Linked DNA regions of Homo sapiens. The protein of the gene in region 7 purifies or fractionates together with the protein of the main gene of each other region. This does not show direct contact. Each region holds a gene or a part of one and is shown on either strand. Other genes may lie near its edges. The genes, in order: PPP1R12B, SHROOM3, MYH11, CDH13, ALPL, FMNL2 and SIK2.

Region 1 (4,654 bases), on a different chromosome or scaffold from region 7:
AGGTCTCTAAGTCCAAAAGAAGCATCAAGGCACCACAAGCTGCAGTGCAAATCATCTACTGTGACGTTGTAGGAGGAGAAAAATTGTCCCCCAGTATTATCTGGGGGCTTCTAACATGCCAAGACAATAATCCACAGTTGGTCAAGTGGCCATGGCCAAAAGAGAGAAAAGAAGCAATTATCCAGATAATTTATATCGTGCTTGTATAACAAATGGACATTTTAAATAAATAATTCAGATAATTGTACCACTCACTCTCCATTTCACAGAAGGTGAATCCATTGTAAAGTAGGTGGTTCAGCTACCAACAGCTCCAGTCTCCCATTTGAAAATAGTCTTTTATGTACCTTAGGAGTTCTCCAGGTCGGCCATGCGCGGTGGCTCATGCCTGTAATCCCAGCACTTTGGGAGGCCGAGGCAGGCAGATCATTTGAGGCCAAGAGTTTGAGACCAGCCTGGCCAACATGGCGAAACCCCATCCCTACTAAAAATACAAAAATTAGCTGGGCATGGTGGTGGGCACCTATAGTTCCAGCTACTTGGGAGGCTGATGCATGAGAATAGCTTGAACTTGGGAGACGGAGGTTGCATGCAGTGAGCTGAGACTGCACCACTGTACTCCAGCCTGGGAGATACAGTGAGACACTGTTTTTTTTTTTTTTAAACAACAACAACAACAACAACAACAACAAAAACTTCTCCAAGTCATGGAGACACACATTGTAACTCTTCGGAAACTGACTTGTAATGTTCTGAAGCCAATAAAGGCCCGTTGTCTTGATTCAAAGATACAGTTTCTCAACAGACCTCAAATCTTTAAGCAGCTTAATTTTTAGCTGAATTTGTCTAGAATCGAGTATACTTGTTCAGTTCAACTCCTTGTCAGCCCTATAAATGGAAAGGAATGCTTATATTGCATTTATAGATGTTAAAAAAAAATCCATAGCTGTCATCCCCTTCTTCTCTTATTTCAATAGATTACTAGGCCAGGCACAGCGGCTCATGCCTATAATCCCAGCAGTTTGGGAGGCCAAGGAGGGTGGATCTCCTGAGGTCAGGAGTTTGAGACCAGCCTGGTCATCATGGTGAAAGCCCATCTCTACTAAAAATACAAATATTATCTAGGCGTGGTGGCAGGCGCCTGTAATCCCAGCTACTCGGGAGGCTGAGGCAGGAGAATCGCTTGAAACCAAGAGGCAGAGGTTGCAGTGAGCCAAGATCTCGCCATTGCACTCCAGCCTGGGCAACAGAGCGAGACTCTGAATCAAAAAAAAAAAAAGAAAAAGAAAAAGAAAAACAAGAATTCACCTTCCCAAAGAGTTCAGAAATTTAAAGTTTAGAATTTAATGTGGTTCTCTTAGCTTTTATCTCATTTTACATTCAGCTCCTTATTAAGTGAGATAGAGATCTCTGTGACATAAGTCTGAAAAATCCATGCCTATGGGCCACTTCTTTACTTTCTAACTTTGCACAAATAATTTTCCTGAGCTTCAGTTTCCTCATCTGTAAAATGAGAATAACAACACTACCTGCCACACCTACTTCAAAGGATCACTGCTGAAACTCACATGGGGTAAGACATATGAAATCAAACAGCAAAGCACTCTACAAATATTGGTTACTACCTCAGGTGGGGAAATATTATCAGCAGGAAAAAAAAATGGGTACAAAATAGGGTGAAAGAGTTTCTTCTACCTGAAATAGAAGGGTTGCAAACATAGTGAGAAGTAACTTTTTAAGCTATTGGCTAAATATATTTAGGGAAGTGGTCTGATATAAAGTTGAGTTATTATTTAGAAGTAGATTCTCATGCCAATACATTCACTTTGCACAGACGGCAGAAGAAGAAAAATACAAAAGATTAAGAGTGGGTGTCCGGCTCTCAGCTCACCAAAATAACTGATGAAGTTCCATTTGAGGAGAGAGGGGTAGTTAGTCATGGCAGTCAGTAGACAGAGAATATTGCTGCATTAGGTGACAGAAGTAAAGGTGTCGTTACCAAGCACAGATTATCCACAATCCATATAGTATAGCTATACATGGGGCATGGGATTTCTATAGAGCACTTTAGAAAAAAAAATAGAAAAATAGAAAAGCTATTCCATAAGTATCAAACAGAGGTAATTCAGTAACTTAGTTCTCCATAGGAAGCTCTCAGGGAGGTAGCACTGCTGAGAAGGAAGTTAAGATACCTAAAACAACGAGGTCCAGCGTGTTCTAGGAGCTGTAGCCTAGAGGCAACACAAACTGTTTTGAAGTACTACAAATCAACAAAACAAGAGGTGTGGTTTCAGACCTGCTTGTCTTTACCCAGTAAAGGGCTTTACTCTTTAAGTGATATAAGATATTCTATAACGGGGACACACAACAACTGAATTTTCTGAAAGGGCATCAAACAAATGACACTGTGCCTATGAGTGACGCGGTGTGCAGGCACGCCAACCAGACATAAGTGAAGATAACTAATCTACAGGGATAAGACCAGGGACAAAAATCACCAGTAACCATGACAACACAAGTAGGTGGAGGGAAATACAAACACTGACCAAGCAGCGGGGTGACGCTATTCCTAAGACCCTGGGGTCAGAAAAAGACTTGATTAGTGGAGGAAGCTGGCCAAGAATGAAACCGATTAGCCCAAAAGGGCAGTGTCCATGCAGAAGGAGTCGGCGGCAACACTGATACTCCCCATGGGGTGGCTCGCAGGGTCAAAGGCTCATCTGTAGGAGACTGGACGCCTCTAAGACCAAGAAAGGAGTTACCTGGTGCAGGGCTGTCAAGCCGTCCACGTTGACCGTGTTGATATCAGCACCTCTTGCCAGAAGCTTTCTCACCTCGTCGGTGTCCCCGCTAGAGCAGGCGGCCAGAAAGACAGCACCGTCCTCGAAGCGGACCCTGGGGCTCCCGCGCCTGGTCAGCGGCTGCCGCCCCGCGCCTCGTCGCTCCGCAGGCTCCTGCTCTGTCAGCGAGCCCCGCCAGCGCCGAAGCTGCTCTGCCCGCCGCATTCGCGCCGACTCTGCCCGCTTCCCTCCTAGGTGCTCCAGTTCCGCCATTGCTCCGGCCTCGGCAGCTGCTGCCAAAACTACCAACACTAAATTACTGTTGGGGCTCGAGTTGCCGCTGCCGCCTCTCTCAGAGCGCTTCAGCCCGGAGCAGAGGGCGGAGACCCTCGCGCCGCCATCTTTACTCCTCCCGCCAGTAGTACCGCCCGCACGCTCCCTCGGCTTCAATACGCAGGCGCTGCCCGGCCTCGGGTCATCACGGGACTCGTAGTAAGAGGCCTGCCCTAAGTGCACTTGGTGGCCGTAAGGGAACTACAAATCCCTGGATGCATCAGAAAAAAGGCGAGGACCGGCGGCTCTCTCTTTCGCCACGGGACCCAGTGGGGTCACCTTTGCCCTAAAGCTGGAACTGTCTCCTGGACTGGCGTCAGCCTCTTCCTCTGGGCATTTTGGGAGTTGTAGTTTATTCTTGTTATGACTAGTAACTAATCTTATCTCCCTAATTATCACATCAATTCTTTGGAGTGGAAAAAAGGCGGTAATTATTCCTGTTTTCTGGAGGAGAGAACTAAACATTAAGTACCTAAACGACTGGATTCTATATCCTAGTTCTAAGTCTAGGGTTTTATTAACATGTGTATTAATCACGGTAAATGTGAATGAGCGTGGGGAAGAGGAGCATACATACAGATACAGTATTACATGTTTTACATAAATACTGTCAACTTACTCCAGGCCCAGAAAAGATCTTGAAAATGATGCATTCAGATGTAGTGAAAAGAGTTTAAGCTGTGAATTTAAATTGAATTCACAGCCGCAGACAAATTACTTGACTTCTCTTAGCCAGTTTTCTTATGTGTAAAATGGGAATAACATCTCACAGGGTAGTCATGTGGATCAAATGAAATAATACATGCAAGGATGCCTAATACTATCTTTGGCACATATTGGATCCCAATAAATAATTTCTCTTCCTTCTCCCTCCTCCTCCTCCTCTACTCTTTTCATATACCTTAAATTTTTACAAGACAGAATAGATGTCTTCCATGATTTTTATTTCTTTTCTTTTGAGACAGAGTCTCACTCTGTCACCCAGGCTGAGTGCAATGGCGCAATCACGGCTCACTGCAGACTCAACCTCCTGGGCTCAAGCGATCCTCCCACCTCAGTCTCCCCAGTAGCTAGGACTACAGGTGCCCACCACCACACCCACTATTTTTTTATTTTTTTGTAGAGACAAGGTCTCACCATGTTGCCCAGGCTGGTCTGGAACTCTTAGACACAAGCGATCCTCCTGCCTCAGCCTCCCAAAGTGTTGGTATTACAGCCCTGAGCCACTGTACCTGTCCCATGATTTTTTTTTTCAAAGCTAGAGAAAGATACTATCAAGCATACTAAATCATACTAAATTCCTAAGGTAGCAAATAGAACATTTTTATATTCACCAAGACTGGGTTATAAAACATGTATCTGTCCGATTGTTTTGTTTTGTTTTGTTTTGTTTGAGACAGGGTCTCGCTCTGTCACCCAGGCTGGAGGGCAGTGGCATGGTCGTGGATCACTGTAGCCTCAACCTCCCAGGCTGAAGCGATCCTCCCACCTCAGCCCCCCAAGTAGCTGGGACTACAGGCCTGTGTCACTATGCCTGGCTA
Region 2 (3,950 bases), on a different chromosome or scaffold from region 7:
AGCACAGCAGAAGGCAGCCCCTCTGGTGCTATAGAGAAAGTGGAAGGCGAGAACTTTCTCCCCTGCAGACACAGCCCAGTTTAGATCTCCATGGCATGTGGGAAGACAGCAGCAGCATCACGGTCATTTTTTAAGTGTCTTAACATTTGAAATCTCTGTAGGAGTATCAAATGCTAACAACTAGATTCCAGCACTGCACTTTCAAGCTATTCGCTGAAGTCCCTCAAAAAGGGCTGGGGAAGATATAAAGGTTAATATTACTTTTTCTCAGAAGTGTCATTTAACAATTGGCCTCCTTCCCTAAAAAAAGTTTCTAGATTTTAAAATTTTCCTTTTGACTATGAAACAAGAAAATTACACACACCGTTGGCACTGGCCAACCAGCAGCTGAGAACAGTGTCGGGGTCCTGGTGCTGGATTAGGAGGCTAGGGACTTGGGTTCAAGTCCTGGCTATGAGACTTCTAATAATCCCTCTAAGCTTCACTTCTGTTATTTGTAAAAACGAAAAGTACAGTAGCTTACCTGCCCTGCCTACTCACAGAAAAGCTAAGAGGAAATTAGTTAAAGTGCCATGTAAATCCAAAGTCTAATGATTTTGGTGCAATCTGGTGATGTGACAGGTCCTTTCCCCACCTGCCTCAAGAGGCCCAGTCACCACGCTGATTACATGGACCTTGTCAATTTTTCTGAGGAAAGCTGAACAAGGGCATCCCATTCTTTATTTACCTTCTTTTCATTGACATCTGCCTGTTCCTCTTCCTCATTCACTTCTGCTGGCATCTCTTTGATTTTGTTCAGTAGCTCAGCCTTGGGAGCAGACACACTGTAGTAGGCAGGGCAGTTAACCAACATGCTCACTGCTTCCTTGTCTTCATTCCTGGGCCAAAAAGAGCACAAAGTATAGCCACACAGATCACGCCAGAGGCTTTGTTTCACTGCAGATGTCAGTCCATTCAGAAGTGCGTAACAATTCTATTTAATTTCTTTCCCAGAAATTAGGATAAACTAGTAACTGTTAACTAATGAGTGATTACTATGTACAGGGCTGTTGAAGCCAGGCAAACTTGGGATGGAAAACCACCAAAAGCAGCATTAGGGATGACAGTGGGAGTCAAGGCTATGGCCTCGCCAGCTGACTCTGGAGAAGACATTTAACCTCTCTGCTTTTGTGATTCATATAAGAACGACACTGACTCCTTATTTCAGAGAAAGGCAGTGTGGAACCATGACTCAATCAATGTGAAAGTATTTTCAAGGTGCTGCACAAACCTCAGGTTTTAGGTCAATTATTTCCTATACTCCTTTGGTTACATGTAATCTTTCTAGTGCCTACTATGCACTGTTGCTTGAACACACAAAATTTTTCCTTCTCAAGTGTGCCTGCTATCCCATATAATCCTGGGAAATCTGCAGTTTGCTGGTCCGCAGTGAACTAATACAAGATATAAAATCTACTCATTGATAATATAATAGGGATGTTTTAAGGCTGAAGAAAAAACTCAGAATTGAGAAACCTGCTATCTAGTAGTTCTCTGTTTTACCACATTTGAGTTGCCTTTCAGCCTATAATTCATATCCTACCCACTGAATAAATGACTCTATGGAAGTACGATTCTCTTGGAGAGGAACTTTATTTAATCTTGTGATATTATTTAACATCTAGCCCATCATTTTACTATGAAATTAGGAACCACACACACAAAAAATCATCTTTACTAGTTTCCTGCTTGATAACTGTCCCAGTAAGCAACAATGACCACATTTAATCCAGTTAATTGAAAGACAGGGAAAAGATTTTCTGATACATTTTTGTTTGTTTTTGTTTTCAGATATGTCCACCGCATTACAAATGGGATTCTCTGGCATCTGACCAACCCTCACAATGGCTACTGGCCATCTCATGCCCAACAGGACAATGCTTATTTCCACCAGGAGATGGCGCATGCCTTTTTTTTTTTTTTTTTAAATCCCCAGGAAGGTCTCAGTGCTGCAAAAGCTCCATGACCATTCTGCTTCTAAACTGACGGAGCAAACATATATTTCCAGTGGTAATGCTAGGAAATACTTTGCTAAGGATGTTACTTTGGTCCTTCAGCCAGTGGTCAGAGAACAGAATGACCATACTGCAACCACCCATGGTGAACTGACTGGCACACCTACAAAAATCTTATCTTTGGGGTCCCCATAGTACCCAGTGGATTGCCTTGCACATTGTAGGTGCTCAGTATGTGTTTGCTAAAGACATGACCCTGGATAAATCACTTCACCTCAATTAGTCTGTTTCCCAAATCTGAAAATAAAAGCAGTGAAATGGACAAGGTGACAGTTAAGGCCTTGAATCAGAAGAGCCTCTGACAATGTGACAAATAGCTTGTAAGTATCACATAGCTCTTTCCTTTCTCTCTCCCCCATAAAATGAAACGTGGTGTTCCTGTTAGTAATTTAGTTAGGATCAGTTGGAAATTTTTAAAATGCAATCCCAAATTTGGATAAAATGTTCTGTTTTTATTTAGTCTGGAAGCCACTAACTGCTGAGTCCCAGACTGTCAATCCACAAAGATTTCACTGAAAATTTAAGAGAAAATGAAAGCTACTCAGTCTTTCTCATAGTAGTCTTTTAAGGAAATAAAACATGCAAGAAAATACTGCAGTAACCCAGGAGAAATGAAAAGCACAGACTGCACACTGGGACACGTGTTACATGGCTGGCTCAAGGAGCTTCAGAAGCAGAGGCTCACGGACTGGGCCAAACCAGACAGTGCGCTCCTACTCAGACCTTTCCTGATTTTCAGGATTTGCGCCAACACCCACCTTAATGCCTCAGAGGTAAGGGTCAGTGTAGTACACGAATCTATTTCTCTAGGCTCTCCTCCTTACAAAGCCCTTCCCCTCTCAGTCTTGGCAAGACGTTGGCCACGCTCACCACTTCCACTTGCTCCTTTCCCAGCACCGAGCTCTGAGGGCCTCTCTGCCAGAGCAGCTCTGATACAGAACCGGCAAGTACACCTTTGCTGAGCTGGGGGCACTGTGTAATTGCTGGAGACAGGCACAGTCATGGGGCTGTGATCAAATCCAGGTGCCATCACTCACATGTTCAATGACCTTGGTGAGCATGGTCTTAATTCCTCTGTACTTCAGTTTCCTCATTTGTAAATGGAGGTAAAATTGGTAGCCACCTCAGAAAGTTCTTGTGAAAATTAAATAATGTTGATATAAATAAATTAATACAATGTTTGACACACAACGTTAACAATGGGTACTAATGGCAATTATTATAATTATTACTATTACTTTCTTTGTTGTTGCATATCTGTCCCACATCCTCACTGCCAGAGCCATTCCTCCAAGACTGAGATAAAATGTCACTCTTGGTTCAGGAGCTGTGGCAGTAGGAGAACATCAGGCAACTAGTCCTAGACTTATCATCATCCCCATGGAAGGAGTGTGATTGTAAGTCTCTCTGAGGACATCACCAGGGACTTACCTCTTGCCTTCACATCCTGAAGAGCTGACAGTTCTCTGTATGGCCTTCCTCTTTACACTGTTTTCCTTCAGCAAGTTCACATCTCGGGGAAACAAACCTTCCATCAGGTCCATTGTTGTCTTCAGCCTGGAGTCTGGATCCAAAATGTCTGCTAGAGATTTGTCTTGGTGGACAATTTCCTTGGCCAAAGCCTCTGTTCTGATGTCTTCTGAACTCTTCTGAGGATCAGGACTGACTTTCTTTTCTAAACCCTGAGTTCCACTGACTGGATCATGGCTGAGGCTTTGAGTCTGGATGGGTGCTGGCTGCCCACCAAGAGACCCAGCAAGTTGGGCGTGAACGCTCATGAAGGAGGGTGGTGTGGACTCAGCCTCTGAACCCTTGATAGAAGTTTGGAGTCTGGAAGCCAGTGTCTGACTACCTACCACATGGGCTGCACCAGGCATGTGCCTTTCCCTTGCAATT
Region 3 (3,950 bases), on a different chromosome or scaffold from region 7:
TGTAATACCAGCTACTCAGGAGGCTGAGGAAGGAGAATCGCTTGAACCCAGGAGGTGGAGGGTGCAGTGAGCTGAGATCCCATCACTGCACTCCAGCCTGGGCGACAAGAGCAAAACTCTGTCTTGAAAATAAATAAATAAATAGTAAATTAAATATCCCAGAGCCCAGAGAGTATAGGATTTGCACATCACCTCACCTGGTCAACAGCTTCCCTCAGGATTTTACTGCCAAGCCATTGGCTAAAGATTTTGGACCAGAGACAAAAACCCAAATGTTTTTGGAGATCAGGTAAGTAATACAGAGTGACCCAGACCAGATGTTAGAGTATTGCTTATATTCTAAATACCATGCAGGGTTCAGCACTGTGGCTCACGTCTGTAATCCCAACACTGGGAGGCCAAGGCAGGCAGTTCGCTTGAGCTTAGGAGTTTGACACCAGCCTGCGCAACATGGTGAAACCCCATCTCTACAGAAAATACAAAAATTAGCCAGGCATGGCAGCACATGCCGGTAGTCCCAGCTACTCGGGAGGCTGAGGTGGGAAGATCGCTTGAGCCTGGGAGGTAGAGGTTGCAGTGAGCCAAGATCATGCCACTGCACTCTAGCCTGGGTGACAGAGTGAGACTCCATCTCAAAAAGAAAAAAAAGAAAAAAGAAAAATTGCTCATATTCTAAATGTCATAAAGGGCTGGATACAGTGGTTCACACCTGTAATCCAAGAACTATGGGAGGCCAAGCCAAGAGGATTGCTTGAATTAGGAGCTCTAGACTAGCCTGGGCAGCACAGTGAGATCCCATCTCTATTTCAAATAAACGAATGAATGAATGCCACACAGGCAAAACAGAAGTTCTCTGAACCTGATCTGCAACACAATTCGCCAGCTGGAAGGACCTCTGCAGTGGAAATCCTCGCTCAAGGCCTGGTCCAGGTGTAGGGAGGCATCAAATGTGTCGCAGGGAGAGGCACTGGGCACTCTAAATGCACCTGCTTGGCAGGTCCCCAGTAGTACCAAAAAGGCAGTTTAGATCTATTATTCATAACAGCCACTGTATTTATTGGGCCCCTTGTATTCATCAGGTATCAGGCCAGACAGCTTCCTATATAGACCATCTCACTGTCTCCTAAGCGCTCTGTAAGGTGGCATCACCTGCTATTGCTATTTTCCTGCTAAGATGACCGAGGTCCTGGAAGGTAAATGCAAGACCCCCACTTGTAAAATTTGGAGTCAGGAGTACAATCCAGAATCTAATCCTAGTTTTCTGCTAAGAGTAAATGGACACCCGATTAATTCTTAGCAGAAAGTCCCTTTCTTGCCCCTGACCCTACTCCACCATTTCTACCCTCCCCTCACCATTCACATCCCCCCACCTCCCAAGGGCTTGTTCCCAAGAAAGCCCTACTTCACTTTTACAGGAAAAAAAGTGAATGGTGAACCTGTCACATTCTTATTGCCTTGTGACATCTGCCTAATCATCTGAATACCAATGGTTTCAAGTAACTCCAGAAAGAAGTTCTCTTAATGCATAACACTATTTTTTCCTCCCAACCAAGAGAACTTGGTTGGCAAGAGTTACGGTAGCCCCTGTGAAGGATGCTTCTGGAAGCGAGCAAGAACTGATTATTTCTGGCCCTAAAAGCCCCACTGTGTTTTATATTTTACAATTCTGGCATACCACAGCTTAAAATAAATGTATAGTCTCCTATGTCAGGGGTCCCCAACCCTTGTGCTGCAGTATCAGTCAATGGCCTGTTAGGAACCAGGCCACATAGCAGGAGGGGACGGTGGGTGAGTGACCATCACTGCCTAAGCTCCGCCTCCTGTCAGATAAGCAGCATTAGATTTTCACAGAAGCACAAACCCTATTGCCAACTCCACCTGCAAGGGATCTAGGTTGTACGTTCCTTATGAGAATCTAACCAATGCCTGATGATGAGGTGGGACAGTTTCATCCCAAAACCATCCTCCCCACTCCACCCTGGAAAATATTGTCTTCCACGAAACCAGTCTCTGGTGCCAAGAGGATGGGGACTGCTGTCATATGTGACTGCAACAAGTTGCAATTTGCAATGCCTTTTTTTTTTTTTTTTTGAGACCGAGTCTCACTCTTTGCCCAGGCTGGAGTGCAGTGGTGTGATCTCGGCTCAATGCAACCTCTGCCTCTGAGGCTCAAGCGATTCTCGTGCCTCAGCCTCCCGAGTAGCTGGGATTACAGGTGCCCACGACCATGCCCAGATAATTTTTGTATTTTTAGTAGAGATAGGGTTTAGCAGAGACCATGTTGGCCAGGCTGGTCTTGAACTCCTGACCTCAGGTGACCCACCTGCTGCGGCCTCCCAAAGTGCTGGGATTACAGGCGTGAGCCACTGCACCTGGTCTGCAATGTCTTTAGCCAGTCATTTGCAATATCTATTAATTTTAGATACGCATGCCCTTTAACTCAGCAAGCGCATTTCTGGGAATTTATCCTACAGATAAATTCATATAATTAGACAAAAAGTCCAAGGATGAAAGAGTGGCATTATCTATTATTCCCATTTTCCTGCTAAGCCTATCGGGGTCTTGAAAGGTAAATGCAAGGCCCTCCCTTGCAAAAGTTGGGGAACCAGGATTAGAATCCCGATCTGTTTGAAGCCTAATTTACTCAGAGATGGCATTAGCGATGTTTGACACATCTGAATATGTCAGCCCTATTCACAGTCCTGTCCTAACAACTCACTGCTTCATCCCTTGAGCACAAACAAGCTATTCATTAGCCTGTGGAAGATCCTTAGGTCTTCGAGTTACAAGTCTCAGCTCTGCCCAAAACTCGCTGGGTGATGCTAGGCAAGTCACTTGCCCTCTCTGGGCCTTGTATTTTTCAGCCTGGTACAGTAAAGTTCTATGCCCCTCACCTTTTTTTTGAGACAGAGTCTCACTCTGTTGCCCAGGCTAGAGAACAGTGATGCAATCAGGGCCCACGGCAGCCTTGAACTCCTGGGCTCAAGCAATCCTCCTGCCTCACTCAACCTCCTGAATAACTAGGACTACAGATGCATGCCACCATGCCCAGCTCATTTTAAAAATTTTTTTGTAGAGATGGTGCCTCGCTATGTTGCCCACTCTGGTCTCAAACTCCTGACTTCAAGCCATCCCCCCACCTCAGCCTCCCAAATTGCTGGGATTACAGGTATGACCTGCCATACCTGGCCTCTATGGCCCTTTCCTAGCAACTTTGATGAGGTTGTTCCTCCTTAGCCCCTGAAACCCTGATACAAGTCACAGATGTCCGACCTCCCCTTTCAGCCACTGTGAGCAGCTTCTTCCTCTGTCCTTGGATCACATACAAGGTTTCTTTCAAATTCTTGCCTGCCTTTCTCTAAATTCAGTCTTTCCTCCATTGTGTGGCCAGGGTTAAAAGTTGAAAGGTCAGGAGTGGAAGGAGAAGACCTAGAGAGCAAAAAGGCCATCCCTTAAAGTATGCCATCAAGACCCTAAATAAGCCAGGCGCGGTGGCTCACGCCTGTAATCTGAGCACTTTGGGAGACCAAGCCAGGCGAATCACTTGAGGTCAGCGGTTCGAGACCAGCCTGGCCAATATGGTGAAACCCCATCTCTACTAAAAATACAAAAAATTAGCCAGGCATGGTGGTGGGCGCCTATAAACCCAGCTACTCTCTACTCAGGAGGCTGAGGCTGGAGAAGTGCCTGAACCTAGGAGGCGGAGGTTGCAGTGAGCCAAGATCGCACCACTGCACTCCAGCCTGGGCGACAGAGCAAGACTCTGTCTCAAAAACAAACAAACAAAACCCTAAACAAATGTAATTGGAATTTGTAACATTCCCAATCCAGGTAAGGAATGGTAGCTTAATATATTAAAGATTCTAATCACCACTTTCAGCCCAAATAGAAACGAGGTTTATGAGATCAAAGGGAAGAAAATTAAGAGAAGCTTCTCCTTTAACGGCCAC
Region 4 (3,950 bases), on a different chromosome or scaffold from region 7:
ATATGCATGCCTGGCTGGGTGGGGTGGCTCATACCTGTAATCCCAGCACTTTGGGAGGCCGAGGTGGGCGGATCACAAGGTCAGGAGTTCAAGATCAGCCTGACCAACGTGGTGAAACCCCATCTCTACTAAAAATACAAAAATTAGCTGGGTGTGGTGGCACACGCCTATAATCCCAGCTACTCAGGAGGCTGAGGCAGGAGAATCGCTTGAACCCAGGAGTTGGAGGTTGCAGTGAGCCAAGACTGCGCCATTGCACTCCAGCCTGGGCAACAGAGCAAGACTTTGTCTCCAAAAAAAAAAAAAAAAAAAAGCCAAGATGAGCAAAAGATAGCCAGTAAACACTTTTAAAATTTTATTTTTCAACGTATTGTTTGCATAAAACAAAATGCATCCGTTGCAAGTGTACAGTTTGATGCATTTTGGTAAGTGTACAGAATTTTATACCACGCCCTAGTCAAAATACAGTTTCCTTTGCTATTGATCCCCTTTCCGCAATCCAGGCTCTCATTGATCTGCTTTCTCTAATAATGGCTTTGTCTTTTCTAGAATGTCTTAAAGTGTACCAGTATTTTGTTCCTTTCTATTGCGAAACGTATTATGGACAGACACGGCCTGCAAAGGCATTAAACCCAGGTAGAGTGGGCTGTCTTCGGCCTGCAGACGGCCGCGGTCATGCTTTGCAGAGGAGCTGTGGCCCCTTAAAGTGACATGACATTATGGACAATGACAGTTGATCCTTGGGGGCTTTCCATGCACCTTGCGCATGCAAGCTAAGGGCTTTACATAAATTAAATAAATTTCCTCAAGTAACCATCTCAATAGCCCTGGGACGAGTCACTTATGTTATCATCTAAATTGACTTAAAACAGGAATTTGAGACTCTAATTTGAAAACAAGAGATTGGAGCCTATTTAGTGGATTTTATGCAGCCAAAGATGTTTCTTGTTGTTGTTGTTGTTCTTGCTTTTAACTAATTTGCCTCCCAGGAGACAGTTGAAATGTCTAGAGACATTTTGATTATTATGCCTGGCAGGACGCCACTAGTGGCATCTAGTGGATGGAGGGTAAGGGTGCTGCTAAGCGTCCTCCCATACACAGGACAGCACCCCCCACAAAGAATTATCCAACCCCAAATGTCAGTAGTGCTGAGGCTGAGAAACCCCACTCTGCTCTCTAACCAAAATTAGACACAGAAAGTGGAGACATTCTACCACCCTGACAACATCAATGGCTTTTGCCCATTTAAAACAAGAAAGAGGAATATGTATCCAACCCAAAACAACATCTTAACATTCTTTCTAATAGGCTTTTGCAAAAATAGTTCATATTTTATAACTGTCTTGCAGCATGGGGTATAAGTGTAATCATTGTAAAAATGAAACCTAATCATTGTAAAAATGAAACCTAATCATGGTAAAAATGAAAAGAGTGCCTCAAAACATCTGAAGTTCTTAGCAGAGGGCAGCCTGTCTTCAGTGGGCACTTTTGGATGGAGGCAGGACTAGGGTATCAGTAGGAGTGAGAACAAAGGTCAGAAAAATGAGTACACAGCACATGTATACTGATTAATTTCTTTCTTTTTTCCTTCTTTTGATGGAGCAAGACTGTAACAGAAGCCTGAGAGTGAGGAAGGGCTTTGCCAACTATTACTGTAGACACAGTAGTTTACTCAATTTTATGAACTCTTAGTCCTGGGCTGGAATTCACGCCTCTGCTGGAATTGCACAGACAAAACGTGCTTGCGAGGAGTAAGGTGGCAACAAAAGAAAAATGCAGGCAAAAACACGCCTCATTTTGAAACCGGATCTGAGCATCCTAGAGCCAGAGCCTCTCCCAGCCAACATTGCTGAGTTGAGCAGAGTGACAGACTCCACACTGGAGCCAGCCCCGCAGCTGGCCATAAGGAGGAGCCACGAGCAGGTGCTGGGAAGACAGGCTCTTGAACGCACACTATGCTGATGTCTCTTTCTGTGAAGTTTTCTACATGAGTGACGTTCTCAAAGTCTGCAACACAGTCTGCCATGAGATGCCTTTTTTCCTCTGGGAACACAATGCTACTTTCGTGATTGGCTGAGTAATGGCCCCCAAAGATGTACTCTTCATCCTAATCCCTGGAACCTGTAAACATGTTACCTTATATGGCAAAAGAGACTTCGGGCAGGCACCTGTCATCCCAGATACTCAGGAGGCTGAGGCAAAAGAATCGCTCAAACCTGGGAGGCGGAGGTTGCAGGGAGCCAAGATTGTGCCAATGCACTCCAGCCTGAGCAACAAAGTGAGACTCTGTCTCTAAAAAAAAAAAAAAAAAATTTCTCAGATGTGACTCAGTGAAGGATTTTGAGATGGGGAGAGTATCTTGGATTAGCCAGGTGAGCCTGATATAATCACAGAGTCCTTATAAGAGGGACAAAGGAAGAGTCGATTAGAAACAGACCATGTGATGACAGAAACAGAGGGAGGTCAGAGGTGAAAAAGAGAAGATGCTGCAGTGCTGCCTCTGAAGATGAAGGAAGGGGCCATGAGCCAAGGGATGCAGGCAACCCTTAGAGGCCAGGAAAGGCAAGGGAACGGATGCTTTCCTAGAGCCTCCAGAAGGAGCACAGCCTGGTCAACACTGATTTGAGCCCCATAAGACTGAGCTCAGTCTTCTGACTTCCAGAACTGTAAGAGAATAGATTCGTGTTGTTTGCACTTTATGGCCATTTGTTACAGGAGCAACAGGAAATTAACATACCATGTTTGGGCCAGGTGCAGTGGCTCACAGGTGAGCCTATAACCCCCAGCACTTTGGGAGGCCAAGATGGGAGGATCGCTTGAGGCCAGGAGTTCAAGAACAGCCTGGACAACATGGCGAAACTCCATCTCTATAAAAAATGCAAAAATTAGCCAGGCATGGCGGTGCATGCCTGTAGTCCCAGCTCCTCCGGAGACTAAGGTGGGAGGATCGCTTGAGCCCAGGAGGCAGGGGTTGCAGTGAGCCAAGATTGTACCACTACACTCCAGCTGGGGCAACAGAATGAGACCCTGTCTCAAAATAAAAACATATCATGTTTGAAGAACCACCAATAGGTATCTTGCTCTGTGACTTGTGATCCTTAAGTCAACATATATATATATATATAGTCACAGGAAGTCGATACATATATGGGATAATCACCAATCTCTAAGATACATAGCATGCTCATAAAATAGCCAAGCTCTGTGCTGAGAGACAAAGACATAAGGCTCATTGGTAACGGTGGTAATAGCAGCTCTCGGTCTGAGCGATGTTTGGCATCTGAAGTCACCATTAGCATTTTCAGAGAAGTCCAGCTTTTTACCATATAACCATTCATTCTGTCTTCCAATGTGATCCTTAAGGAAAAAAAAAATTCCCCCATAGTCGTGTGATGTTTAAAATGTGTTTATTATACCTTGCCTGTCATTTTTCTGGCTTTTAGCTAAAATGTTTTGAATTGAGTGGTGATATTCCCGACTTAACTCTGAACCCTCTCTATTCAGGTCTGTGAGAACTCCTGACGTCTGAAGCTTGACTCCCAAGTTTCCATAGCAACAGGAAAAAAAAAAATCTATCCAAATCTGAAGATTGCGGTTTACAGCTATCGAACTTCACAACTAGGCCTCAATTGTTCCGGTTTTTTATTTTCTTTACAATTTCACTTAGTCTGTACTTCATCATTTTGACAGCATCTTCCTCCCTCCTTTAATTAATGGAATCTTCTGAATTTTCCCTGAATGTTTAAAGATCATGACATATGACTTGATCTTCTGGGAGCAGGAACAATGACTACTTTTTCTGGTGTGTTAACATGTCGCTAGCCAGTGCTCCAGGCACCCAGCTTTGTCTGTGGGTTAGTATTGGTGTATGTATGAGTATCTGTATGTATATATACACGGTATTTATAGAGAGAGACTATCCTGGAGAAGCCTCGTTTTGATGCCATTCT
Region 5 (3,950 bases), on a different chromosome or scaffold from region 7:
CAGCCTGGGCAACAGAGCCACTAGACCCTGTCTCAAAAAACAACAACAACAAAACAAACAAACAAAACAGACAAACAAACAAAAAAACAACAAGCCTGAGACACTTCAGTGACAGCCAGCAAGAGGCCTGAGAACGTCAGCCTGAGAGCTAAGTGGTACCCACCCTGTGGCTTTACTGACCTAGTAAAGGTGCACTAAAGAAGGCAAGAGGTTGACCCAACAAAAAGTCACTGGGGCCAGGTGTGGTGGCCCATGCCTGTAATCCCAGCACTTTGCGAGGCCGAGGAGGGTGGATCACCTGAGGTCAGGAGTTCAAGATCAACCTGGCCGACATGGCAAAACCATGTCTCTACTAAAAATACAAAAATTAGCTGGGTGTGGTGGCATGTGCCTGTAATCCCAGCTACATGGGAGGCTGAGGCAGGAGAATCTCTGGAACCCGGGAGGCGGAGGTTGTAGTGAGCCGAGATCACGCCACTGCACTCCAGCCTGGGGAACAGAGCGATACTCAGTCTAAAAAAGGGTCACCTGGTAGATCTTTTTAAAGGGTGCACTTGTGGGCCAGGCACAATGGTTCATGCCTATAATCTCAGCACTTTCAGGGGCCAAGGTGGGTAGACTTCTTGAACCCAGGCTGAGCAACATAGCAGGGCCCCATCTCTGCAAAAATAAAATAAAGGTCACACTTCTGGTTTTTCCAGTAAAAGCAATTTGCTTCAGCCACCTAAAAACTTTTTTAAAGAACATAAAATATTTGCTGAGCTCTGCCCAGCAGTTTGCAGACCTGGCCAGGTAAAGTTCATGCACCTGAATGACAAACTGAGCTCTGGAAGGATGAAGAAGCATCTCTGAAACAAGCTGGAGTGGAGGAGGAGGGGGTGGCTTAGAAAGTCTGGAGGGTCAGGGCCTCACTACAGGGTCTCCACGGCCTTATTTCCAGAAATGACCTTCCAGCCTGTCCTCTCCTCCCTTCCCTGGGTCAAAGCAGAGAGGCATAGAGACCTAGGGGAGGAGTAATCCTAAGGTGTCTGCCCTCTGAGCCTCAGTCTCCTTAACTGCAAAATGCTGGAGAGTAGGGGGTAGGTGAGTATCAAAGGTAATGTGCGAAAGTGCCTGGTACCCAATGGTGCTCACAAAATGCCACTTCCCACACAGGGCACATTTCTGAAGTCGTCTGCAGGTGTAAGGACCAGGGGATGTGAGGTTAGTATCAGCAATCGACAATCAATCAGTCTCCCTTGTCCATCTCATAACCCCTGGAGCAGTTGATTCGTGGAGACCTAGAATCTCACATCACAGCAGCTGCCTCCAGAGCCCCCCGCATGTAACCATCAGGCTTCACAGCCTCCTGTGCTACCCTCTGGCTCAGACATGGCGATTCTAAGATGCTTGCTGCAGCCACCATGGTACCTGCCTGTCATCACCAGGCCCTGGCTCCCAGCAAAGGGGGTGGAACAGAGAGCTGTGGGTTCAGAGTGCAAGATCGTGTTTCCTGTCTGAGAAGTGGTTATGCACTGATGCACAGGGCTGTTAGGGAGCACAGGGTGAAGTGGCGCACCAATGCACAGGGCTCTTGGGGAGCAAGGGGTAAGGTGGAAGCTGTCAAGGGAGTCTCTTCCCTGCAGGGGCTGTGCAATCTTTAGAATGAAGTACCCAGCGATGCCTGTCCCCAGCTAGACCCTGGGCTCAACTCGCTGAGCCTTGACAGGTAGATGCTCTATCACCCCCAAACCTCCAGAGCCCTCAGACTCTTCCTGAGGACCACCGAAGCAGGAAAAAAGCTCCTTCGCCTAGCTGACATGTTTTGTAGATGTTGCCAGGCTATGGAAGAGGGGCTAGTGTCCACGTGTCCCATATTCTCACCCTGAGCCCCCTGAGGGCTGGCCCAAGCCCCACACAATCATTCAAGTGGAATTTGAGCCCCTCTTACATGGCCTCACTGCATCTAGCCCAGAAACCGCAAGCTCAGAAGGTAGGTAGGTAATGTCAGGGAGGCAGGTGGGCAAGTGTGAGGCAGTGGGGCGTGGTGGAGACTGTGGTAAAGTGGATGGAGCAGCTGCTAATCAGCTCCAGCCACTGTGGCCAGGCAGGGACATAGCCCCATATGGCCACATCTTCTGATCTTTCAAGAGAAGCCAGAAATCCTTATCTTTATATAAAATGAAATTGCCTGGTTTAAAAACACCAGCAACTAAATAAAAGTTGTTTAATCACCGCAAAAGTCAACAATCCCCCACCCCCTGCAGCCTTAGGAAGGCAGTTTGTGATGGATCTCCCATAACCCAGCACACAGCAGGCTATAAATATCTGAGGACCAGTTGAATACATTAGACCCATTCCAAGTCTTAGGGAAGTCTCATCTCTCCACTCCTACTCCTCAGATATATTGGTTTACAGATGAAGAATCTGAGACTCAGACAGGGGAAGTGACTTGCCCAAGGTCACAGAGGTATTCAAGGACTTCAGCTCAGCTCTCCTGAGCTTAATATCTTTTTCCACCAACCCACATCATCTGCATCCTCCCTTAAACAATGATTTTCAAAAAACAGATATGCTAAGAATATACTGTAGAAATGAAACACACCAAATTCAGGAGAGTGGTTGCCTTTGGAAAGATCATGTAGCTTAAGGCCAGGAGACTGAATTCCCAGTCCACTCTGCCCTAAGCAATTGTGTGACCCTGGGCAAGCCTCTTCTCCTCTCTGGGCCTCAGTCTCCCTGGTGCACCAAGAGCCCAGTTGACCGAGCCAGCTTCTAAAGGCCTTCCAACTGAAATTCTGGGGATCTATGTCTCCTCTCTGGCCAGTACTCTGTGGCCTCAGATGAATACAAAATAGTAATAATAATAATAATAATAATAATAGAGAGGGCGAGTCCACACCAGCCAGGAAAGAACACTACGACTTTTTGTGAAACCTGACTCCTGGTTACTGGAATTCAGAAAGAACGATGGTAATACTTGAGCAGCTTAACCACCATCCTACAATTAAACAAAAGCACATCTGGTTTAACTTCGTCCTCATCTCCTCCCTAACCCCCTACTCTCATCTCAAATTTTACCCCTTAATTTGAGAAGTCAAATTCAATGCAAACAATTGATTTCATGCCACAGTGAGGCTGAGAATTTAAGCATGGAAAACTTTAAGCATAGAGTTTTTCTGGGAGCAATTAACGAAGTGTTGGCGGGGGGGTTGGGAGCTGGTACAAGGAGGCAGAAAAATACGGAGACTATGTTCTTCAGACACTGAGCATCATATCTTGATGTTGGGGGCCTCCTATGAGCTTGACACTCAGAGAGGTAAAGTGACTTGCCTCAGGTCACACAGCTGGCGATTGGAATCCAAGACACCAGCCCCCAAACCAGTGTTTTCCCTGCTGTGTAGGCTTTTGTGACCTAAACGTGGACTTCCCTCAGGCCCTCAGGATCACCTGGTAGGGATAAAGTTAACTGCTTTTGAAATTGCTCCACAGGAAATATGAATGTCTTAATAACATCAATGCTGGTTCAGCCCAAAGTTGGAAAACCATTTATGATCTTGCGACCCTGCAAAGTATATAATTTTAACCCATATTGCAGATGAGAAAACTGAGGCTTCGAAAGGGAAGGTGACTTGTCCAGGGTCGCATGGCAGTGCTGGGAATGAACCTTCAGTCTACTGCCCCTAACTGCCCTCTGAAAGTGAGGACATCTCCAGAAGAAAAAAAACAAATCTAACATACCACAAAGCCCAGCTCCAGCCTGCCAAGGACGACGACATGGTGCTGGGAAGCCAAGTCAGCATTCCTGTGGCCACATGGAGATTTCTGAGTGCTGGTTCTCAGCCCAGCTTGCTCACTCTCCCAGCAATGTTCTCTCAGAGCTCTGGGTTTTGTATTAAAAAGCCAAGTCAGACTGATTTCAAGGTGAGAACTCGGGCTCTGCTACTGGATCCTACTCCCTGGATTAAAAG
Region 6 (4,603 bases), on a different chromosome or scaffold from region 7:
CCATTAGGCACCAGTCTGATGGTAAAACAAAAGTAGAGATCCTTACTGATCGCAAGACTTTTTCTCTCATAAAATAAAGCTTCTAACACATTGTATAACTGGTTTAGTGGAAAGTGCACTGAATTGCGAACAAAAGACCTAAGGCTTTATTATAGGCATTTATTAGATTGCACCCTGGGCAAGTCAGTTTGCTGAGTCAGTTTCCCAATGTGCACAACAGTGTTAAATACCTCACAGGCTTCTTGTGAGGAATAAAGATTATTGCCTTTAATCTGTAAGCAGTTGTGTGTGACAAATGCAAAGTACGCTGTGGTAGTTGTGACAATAATTATATAAATTATAATTCCTTAAATGACTATAATATATATGCCTCTAAATTTAAGCCACTTGAAAGGTATTCTAAAATTTAAAATTTTTCTTGTTTCCATAAAAAGAACATATGAAATGTTACACATAAACTTTTGATGACTGGGAGTTTTATTACAACTGTTTGTGCAATGGGGGCCAAACTGCTTGTTTGCCTTGCCAACTGGTATGGTTATTGGGTGCAGGGTTAACTATGCAGTTAATATATAGCCTATTATCTTTATTTGTACAACATCCTAATTGTAACATTTGGTGGGGCTGCTGGGGGCGTTGTGGCATTTCACCAAACAAAGGTGCTGTTTACCTAGAAGGTGTATGTTTATAAATGCAATTTTGGAGATGTAGTCTCACTTCCAAGATCCATTGTCTATGTTTTATATAGCAAGCGGTCAAGAGTTCACATAGGGAGGAATCCTTCCTGACGTTTACCAAGTATATTTGGATTCTGAGTTCAAATAGCAAGATATATTTGTTTCTAGAAGGTAAGTCTACATAATATTGCTAAAACCCCCTAAATTGTACCATTGAAAGATTACAACATATTACAGAATAGTAGTGTAAATAGTTTATTATTTGCTCATATGCCATGAAAAGACCAGAAAAGTAACATGAATTGCTTTTATAAAACATTCTAATATTGCTAAGAAGCAGGCCCATTAATAGACAAACAGAAAAGAACATGCCAACGTTGTCTATTTGTAGATTAATAAATAGGCAATTATTTTAATATACATATATGTCAGCATTGAACTTTGGAAAACAGCTGCTTTGTAGTGGAAGTCCAACTTGGTCAAATTGCTATTTTTAATCGAAGTGAATGTTGAGTCCACAGAAAGACAAAATCGTGGCATGTTCTTTTTAAAGTAAAGTACACATTTATGGGAATGTGCCCGCAGGTGGCAGTTTAATCTTTCTGTAAATAGGTACACTAAAGTGAAATGTGGTAGGTAACTTGTTCCCTAAACTGTCCTTATAGTTAAATATATATATTAAAAAAAACTATAAGTTAAAATAACATTCAGATTGTATAGCATAGGCTGATGCATTTTAAAACAATATTTACAATATTACCCAGAGGCTTAGGTGGGAATTAAAGAGAAGTGTAAAAACCATAAAAAACTGCACCGATTTTATAGCAAAATATCTGTACATTTAAAAAGATCATATAACTACACATCCAAGGAAAAGGGACCTTCACCAAGGGGTTCACATAAGCACAACATAAAATAGGAACTTCAGCGGTTAAATACTATACAATAAACTTTACAATTAATATATTGATGTACCAAGAAGATAAGCCAGAAGCAGAATGTATATTATGAAAAGTACAAATTTAGCTTCAGTCCAGTTTTTGACTTTGGAATGGATCAAGTGCCCTGCCAGAGAGGAAGGAAAATAACAGTGGCTTAGTGGGCCATCTAGTCCCATTACGTATTATTTAAGCTTAATACCATGTTAATACTTTTCAGCAACTTAAACTGCAATTCTCCATAAGTAGTCTGGGAAATGCATGAAAAACTTAGCCTCGATACACGATGCCAAGTGTATCTTCTTGAATTTATAAAAAATAAGAAAAAATTGCGATTGTCAGAGGAGAGTAAGGCCAGGTTCCTAACACTACTCTGCTAGCAGATGTAACCTTGAATGCTTGTTGATAGAGCTAGTAAACTTCCTTGCAAGGCACCAATTTCTGTTCTCAGAATTAATAATGGTCCTCAGAAATGCTAATGCTGATTACTGAGATGTTAATTTTAATGCTAATAAATACACTTGCATTATTTAAAAAGCTGCCTCTAGCTGAAGAACACAGTACTGCAAATAAGTCTTATACACTATATCCCCACATTCATACTAGTGAATGCCTCTCACAGAGCATCGTTCTCTAGCGCAGAAGTAGTAGAATGTGAAACTGGAAACAAAGGATTGAGTGACCTTTGTGCCACTGCAGTTGCATCCTGTTTGCACTTTGCCAGGGCCTGGTTATAGACAAAAGGAGTTTCATCATGTGACTTTCCTTCTTCCAAATTGCAAGTAAAATACAAAGTTGATGGATATGGCTAAAACAAAATTCCTTCGAAGACATCTCAGCAAAGGACCCACAGCAGATGCATTGATGTTATTTACAACATCAGGAAACCAGGTGGGCCATGATGGGACAATCACAATGGCAGGTAATGAGTTTAATAAGAACTTTACATTTTGGTTAAAAATAACATACTGGTGTAAAAAGATACCTAATCAAATCAAATCCTATTGCTTTGATTAATCTGAACAGGTACTTCCATTTTTAGGCACTTGTTAACAAGGGTTGAAAGGAGAGCTCATTTTAAAATTCTTCCGTGTTTGCTAAATCTGAGCCCTTAAGAATATTTTTGTGTGTGTTCAAGGCTGCAGTTAAATCGTAGCACATAAAGTTCATGTGGGCAGTTTCATTCACGCACACCCTGTATTCATGCAGGCCAGTCTCAGGTTCACATTGTTATTTCGGCACCATTAACAGAACGCAAGTTCTGATCATCAAAGCGCCGCCTGACGCTTCTCCTCACCGCATCGGCTCGTCTGTATGGTTGGTTTCTAAGATCTGTAAAGGGGAGAGTGCCAGTGAGAGAATAGCAACCTTTAATAGCATGTGTCTAAGCAGGACAAAGGCCAGCTGGCAGCCAATCAAAGCAGCTTGTGTAGAAAAGTCAGCTAATGGGCCCTTCAAACTCACTGAGCATTGAATCAAAGACATAAAACATTTGCCTTCAATATTTACAATCAAACAAAACAGGATGTAATACTGGTAGGATTCTAGGACTTTGAGAGAAAAATACATAGATTATTTCTGTCACTGGCCAGAGTCTAGCTGAAGTCTTATTTTGAAATGTTTCTTAAATTAGAAGCAGCTGTAGCTTAATTTTTTTGTTTTGTTTTTATTCTGGAAGCCTGAATGAATAAATAGTAACTGCAATAAATTTTAAACTGCAAAATTAATAAAGCAGACTGTCCTGTCCCATCTTTTCCTCGCAGTTTTAACAAGAACCTAAAGACCTTCAGTTTGCAGATAAGGGCTCTATTATTTTCATTCCATTAAGCTAGCTGAGTTTATTATTTTGTAAATTTTAAACAAAATGATGTTCAATTAACCATTAAATCTAAACCAAAATAATAATCTATTCCCTGGCATCCTTTTCTGCCACCTATTTTTTTTAAGAAATGGGGTCTTGTTATGTTGTCCAGGCCAGACTTGAACCAGTCTCAAGCGATTCTCCCACCTCAGCCTCCTGAGAAGTGGGGACTACCGAGCTCTACCACCCAATATTTTTTATGTTACGTCAGCAAGAAGTAGTTGTGTGGGCCCTCCTGCATAAGAAAATCCTTGTTAAATGAATGAGTCAATCACTGCATACCAGTCCAAATAGGCATTGCTCTGTCAGGATGAAGTGGGAGGAGCAGAGGAATTTTATACAAGAACTCAGTATGAAGGCATGCTTTCTTGAGTAAGTCAGGTAGCTAGCCAGCAGGCTAGGCTATGCAGCCTCCCTTTGATGAAGTCAGGGCATAGTGAAAAAAGTAAAGCAGGCTTTATACTTTTCCTGTTTAATTAGTATTTACTTCCCTTTCATTAACTTAGTATTGTTGACTTCTGCTAGAATACATGCTATCTTTAGAAAGGGAAATACAAACAAATAACAGAATTAAACCAAATTGAATCTTTTGTATCCCTTTATCTACTCAACAAGTTGAAAATGCAGCTGATGGACCACATTTGACCCACAGAATGTTTGCTCCACTGTGCCCCCCCACCCCCCGCACATGTACAGTTTCCTGGTGTTTAAATTGGTAATTAACATAAAGACCAGGGTTTCTGGCTTCTTTTGAAAAACTGGAAGATCTGGCAAAACCGGGCCCCAGTTCCTACACAGCAAAAAGAAGTTGGAGCTAAGATCTGTGCTCTAGGTTCAGCACAGTTCCTACCAGGCCTGTTACCTTCCTGGCTCCTTGACTCATTGGAATTTGTGTGACCCTGCCCTACTCTTTTCTGGGGGGGTGGGCGGGGGTTGTGAGGGGAGGACAGTCTCTGTCACTGAGGCTCGAGTGTAGTGGTGATCTCTGCTCACTGCAGCATCCACCTCCTGGGCTCAAGGGATCCACACATCTCAGCGTCCCAGGTAGCTGGGCTACAGGCATTTGCCACCATGCCTGGCTAACTTTGTTTGTTTGTTTTTTTTTTTTTGTAGAGATGGGGATTTTG
Region 7 (3,950 bases):
CAGCTAGACAGAAGGAAAAAAGAACTCTGAGGGATCTTCATGGGTGATTTTATGGGCCAGGGCTGGAAGTGGTGCCTATTACTTCTGTTCATTCCATTAGTTAGAACTCCGCATATGACCACACCTAAATGCAAGGGTGGCATAGAAACAGTCCAGCTGTAGGCCCAGAAAGAAGAGGAAACAGCAGAGTTTTCAATGATCAGCTAGCAGTCTGCCAAACTCATCCAAGTAATTTCTTAACAATGGAGCTCTCTATCAAGTACTTCCCAGAAATATGTATAATACTAACAATGGTGATGACTTTCACAACTGCACAGCATTTTTAAAGATACTTCAGCATATTTTATCTCATTTATTTCCCAATTCTGTGAAGTAAATGAAACAAGCAGTACACTCATGAGTTGAAACTGAGGTTCAAATAATGTCACATAATCAACAAAGGTCTTAAAGCTCTAATGAATTAAGGAAGAAAAACCCTAGGCCTTCTAACTCCAACTTTAATCTTTTCACTATTTCAAAGGGTCTTGTAGTAATACATTACACAGCATCTGTTGTGTGCCAGGAATTATGCCTGGGATATAAAAATGAATGAGATTTGATTCCTACCCTCAACAATTTAATAGGTATGTAAGAAGAAGATGAACACATTTTACCAACAAAAAAAAAAGTATTTGGGGATTTCCCCAAAGGTGCACTGAAAGTCCTTAATTTGCAAAAGGGTTGTGTTCCAATAGTTCCTTTTAAGGATTAGAATGAACTTAGATTTCTGGGAACTTCCTCTCTATATCCCTTCTCTTATTTAGTTCTCAACATAGTATAAGAGACAAAATCTGCATGGTAACAAGAAAGTAGGTCAAGAAAGGAACTCCACGAATGGAAAGATCCCCTTTTTTGGTGGTGTTCATCTATTCAACTCTCTAATCATTATATATACATTATCTTAAAAAAACTTTCAATAAATTTATATGACAGAAAAATGAATACTCCTTCTACTAAAGGACTGAATAAAGGTTTCCTGTATAAACTGAAGAACATTAGGACAAACTAGAATGATTACTATCAAACTAAATCCCACATAAAGTAGCAACATTGAATATTCAACTTCAAAATACTCAGGGAAATATGAATTAAAAACAAAATACCATTTTCACTTATTATATTTATAAAGATTAAAAAATAAATAACCTGGTCAGCTAAAGTTCAGTGAGATGTTTGTTTCAGATAGTTAGTAGGAATATAAAATAGATTATAATTTTTCTGGGAAGCAATTTAGTAGTCTTTATTATGAACCTTAAAAATCATCCATTCCATGTAGCTTAAGGACTCTTCTGAGAAGTTATTTGAAGGAAATAATCTGAAATGAGGACAAAGATTTATGTGTAGTTTTTTTTTTTTTTGAGACAGGGTCTCACTCTGTTGCCTGGGCTGGAGTGCACTGGCGCGATCTCAGCTCACTGCAACCTCTGCCTCCCAGGCTCAAATGATCCTCCCACCTCAGCCTCCCAAGAAGCTGGGACTACAGGTGTGCACACACACACACACACACACACACACACACATTTGGTCGAGAGTGGGTTTCACCATGTTGCCCAGGCTGGTCTCAAACTCCTAGGCTCAAGTAATCCTCTTGCCTTGGCCTCCAAAAAGTATGGGATTACTGGTGTGAGCCACCTCACCCAGCCTTATGTGTACATATAATCAATAGAGTATTAGAAAACTGAGATATCAGTGCAGTCTCAGCATAAGGTATGAGTAGAAAAAGATGACAAAAAACTGCTTTGTACTTTTCTGTGCAATTTTTCTTCAGTGAACATGTATTATTTTTCTAATAAGAAAAAACCCAGAACAATGACAGTTATTTATCATATACTAATTCTCTGAGATATATTAGTTTTCATTTTCTCATTTTCAAAATTCTTTAGAAAATGGCTATATTATTTTATGATTTAAATATTAAGAAGACCATATATACAGAAATGTTTCTAACAATGTGAAATTTTAAAAAACACTATGAAAGTAACAACTATGTAAAATACAAATTTTATACAGGAGGACAAAGAATTAAATGTAAGAGCAGAAATGTAAAAAGTGTTAAACTGATGAATAAATGGAATTTTTTCATTTTTCAAACTGTTTGTTATCTTTTTTTTTTTTTTTTTAGACAGAGTCTTGCTCTGTCACTGCTGGAGTGCAGTGGTGCGATCTCAGCTCAGTGCAACCTCTGCCTCCAGGGTTCAAAGTGATTCTCCTGCCTCAGCCTCCCAAGTAGCTGGGATTACAGGCATGCACCACCACGCCAGGCTAATTTCTGTATTTTTAGTAGAGATGGGGTTTCACCATGTTGGCCAGGCTGGTCTCAAACTCGTCACCTCAAGCAATCCACCCGCCTCGGCCCCCCAAAGTGCTGGGATTACAGGCGTGAGCTACCATGCCTGGCCTATCCTGTCTCTTTGATTTTAGAAAAACAAATTAACTTCTCATAAAAGAAATACTAATCTCATTTAAAGAAACCACATATACAAAAGTTGCTTTTGGGTTCTATAAATCCACAGATTAAAGCCAAAAAAAGTAGCTTTTGGAGATTTTATAAAGAAGTTACAAATAAGAGCTATTCTTCTAATAACAAATTACAAGGGATTAACATGTGTTTCTTGTCTTAGATAATATTTACTCCAGTCCTATTACTAATATACTAATTCTACACTGTCCTTCTGAAGTACCAAGTAACATTAGCTCTATCATACCATACATTAGACCTTTGAAATTAAAAAATAAATACAACTTTCAGCTTATACAACAAATCATTGGTGGAATTACAACCTACTAGCCTATCATTTGATTGAAAAGCAAGTGTGATTGAGTGGTCTATAATGAAAGACTTTCTGAAAGCAGTAAAAGTCAGTAGTAAAATAGAGAATTCTCTAGTTACCCTCTCAGAATAAATAAAAAGGAGACTTTTTTCCAATGTAAATTTGGCTTTTAAAATTATTCAAATAATAAATTCTCATTAGGATTTAATTTGAAGGCTGGGTATGGTGGCTTATGCCTGTAATCCCAGCACTTTGGGAGGCCAAGGTGGGAGGGCTGTTTGAGCCAAGGAGTTCAAGAACAGCTTGGGCAACATGGCAAAACCTTGTCTTTACAAAAAATTTAAAAATTAGCCAGGCATGGTGGTGTGCACCTGTAGTTCCAGCTACTTGGAAGGCTGAAGTGGGAAGATCACTTGAGCCTGGGAGGTGGAGGCTGCAGTGAGGTGTAATCTCGCAACTGTACTCCAGCCTGGGTGACAGAGTGAGACCCTGTCCCCCCCCCAAAAAAAAAATTGATTTGACTTTTATAATAGTGGGTAGGAAAAACAGATTGGGGGAAAAGGTAAATGGTCCGATAGTTATATACTCACAAAAATTAAACTGAGAATTTTTAAGATGATTAAAGAAGTGATTAAAAATAATCCCCTATCTTAAAAAGTATTTAAACAAATCAACAAAAAAGACAATGCAATTAAATGGGTCAAAGGACAAAAAAATTTATAAAAGGAATGCAAATCATCATCATATAAAACTGTACAAAGTAATTAAAGAAATGCAAATTGAAGTAACAAAATGTAAACATGTATTTGTTAATTAAAAATAAAAATAGAAAAAAATTTAAAAGTAATGAAGAATATTATTTTCTGCTATCAAGTTGGCAGAGATTTAGAAAATAATATTCCTGCAAAATATGAGTTCTTCCTGGTGAAAATTAACGGGTACTCCTTTTCTGGAGGGTAATTTGGCATCCTACACCGTAAGATAGGTAATGTACATACTCCTTGACCCAAGAATTCCATTGCTAGGCAATTACACTGAGGAAATAATTAGATACATGCACAAAGATGTATGTAGAGGGATGCCCTCTGAAACATTATTTTAGAAAGAGAGACAGGAAGATGGAAATAGACTAAATGTTCA

What was found.
Region 1: the proteins of SIK2 (region 7) and PPP1R12B purify together in Homo sapiens (affinity purification with mass spectrometry, with the first as the bait; one large-scale study listed by BioGRID). This does not show direct contact.
Region 2: the proteins of SIK2 (region 7) and SHROOM3 purify together in Homo sapiens (affinity purification with mass spectrometry; one large-scale study listed by BioGRID and IntAct). This does not show direct contact.
Region 3: the proteins of SIK2 (region 7) and MYH11 purify together in Homo sapiens (affinity purification with mass spectrometry, with the first as the bait; one large-scale study listed by BioGRID). This does not show direct contact.
Region 4: the proteins of SIK2 (region 7) and CDH13 purify together in Homo sapiens (affinity purification with mass spectrometry, with the first as the bait; one large-scale study listed by BioGRID). This does not show direct contact.
Region 5: the proteins of SIK2 (region 7) and ALPL purify together in Homo sapiens (affinity purification with mass spectrometry, with the first as the bait; one large-scale study listed by BioGRID). This does not show direct contact.
Region 6: the proteins of SIK2 (region 7) and FMNL2 purify together in Homo sapiens (affinity purification with western blotting; one study listed by BioGRID). This does not show direct contact.

The regions. Positions count from the first base shown.
Region 1 is NC_000001.11:202,347,251-202,351,904, reverse strand, and holds the start of PPP1R12B (protein phosphatase 1 regulatory subunit 12B), read right to left. Parts: upstream 3,207-4,654; 5' UTR 3,054-3,206; coding exon 2,763-3,053; intron 1-2,762. UniProt on the Homo sapiens protein: Regulates myosin phosphatase activity. Augments Ca(2+) sensitivity of the contractile apparatus.
Region 2 is NC_000004.12:76,756,473-76,760,422, reverse strand, and holds part of SHROOM3 (protein Shroom3), read right to left. Parts: coding exon 3,486-3,950; exon of another isoform or gene 3,335-3,485; intron 2,375-3,334; exon of another isoform or gene 1,831-2,374; intron 879-1,830; coding exon 728-878; intron 1-727. UniProt on the Homo sapiens protein: Controls cell shape changes in the neuroepithelium during neural tube closure. Induces apical constriction in epithelial cells by promoting the apical accumulation of F-actin and myosin II, and probably by bundling stress fibers.
Region 3 is NC_000016.10:15,850,261-15,854,210, forward strand, and holds part of MYH11 (myosin-11), read right to left. Parts: intron 1-3,950. UniProt on the Homo sapiens protein: Muscle contraction.
Region 4 is NC_000016.10:83,791,519-83,795,468, forward strand, and holds part of CDH13 (cadherin-13 isoform 1 preproprotein), read left to right. Parts: intron 1-3,504; coding exon 3,505-3,512; 3' UTR 3,513-3,950.
Region 5 is NC_000001.11:21,511,973-21,515,922, reverse strand, and holds part of ALPL (alkaline phosphatase, tissue-nonspecific isozyme isoform 1 preproprotein), read right to left. Parts: intron 1-3,950. UniProt on the Homo sapiens protein: Alkaline phosphatase that metabolizes various phosphate compounds and plays a key role in skeletal mineralization and adaptive thermogenesis.
Region 6 is NC_000002.12:152,646,140-152,650,742, reverse strand, and holds the end of FMNL2 (formin-like protein 2), read right to left. Parts: intron 2,948-4,603; coding exon 2,838-2,947; 3' UTR 917-2,837; downstream 1-916. UniProt on the Homo sapiens protein: Plays a role in the regulation of cell morphology and cytoskeletal organization. Required in the cortical actin filament dynamics.
Region 7 is NC_000011.10:111,608,696-111,612,645, reverse strand, and holds part of SIK2 (serine/threonine-protein kinase SIK2), read right to left. Parts: intron 1-3,950. UniProt on the Homo sapiens protein: Serine/threonine-protein kinase that plays a role in many biological processes such as fatty acid oxidation, autophagy, immune response or glucose metabolism.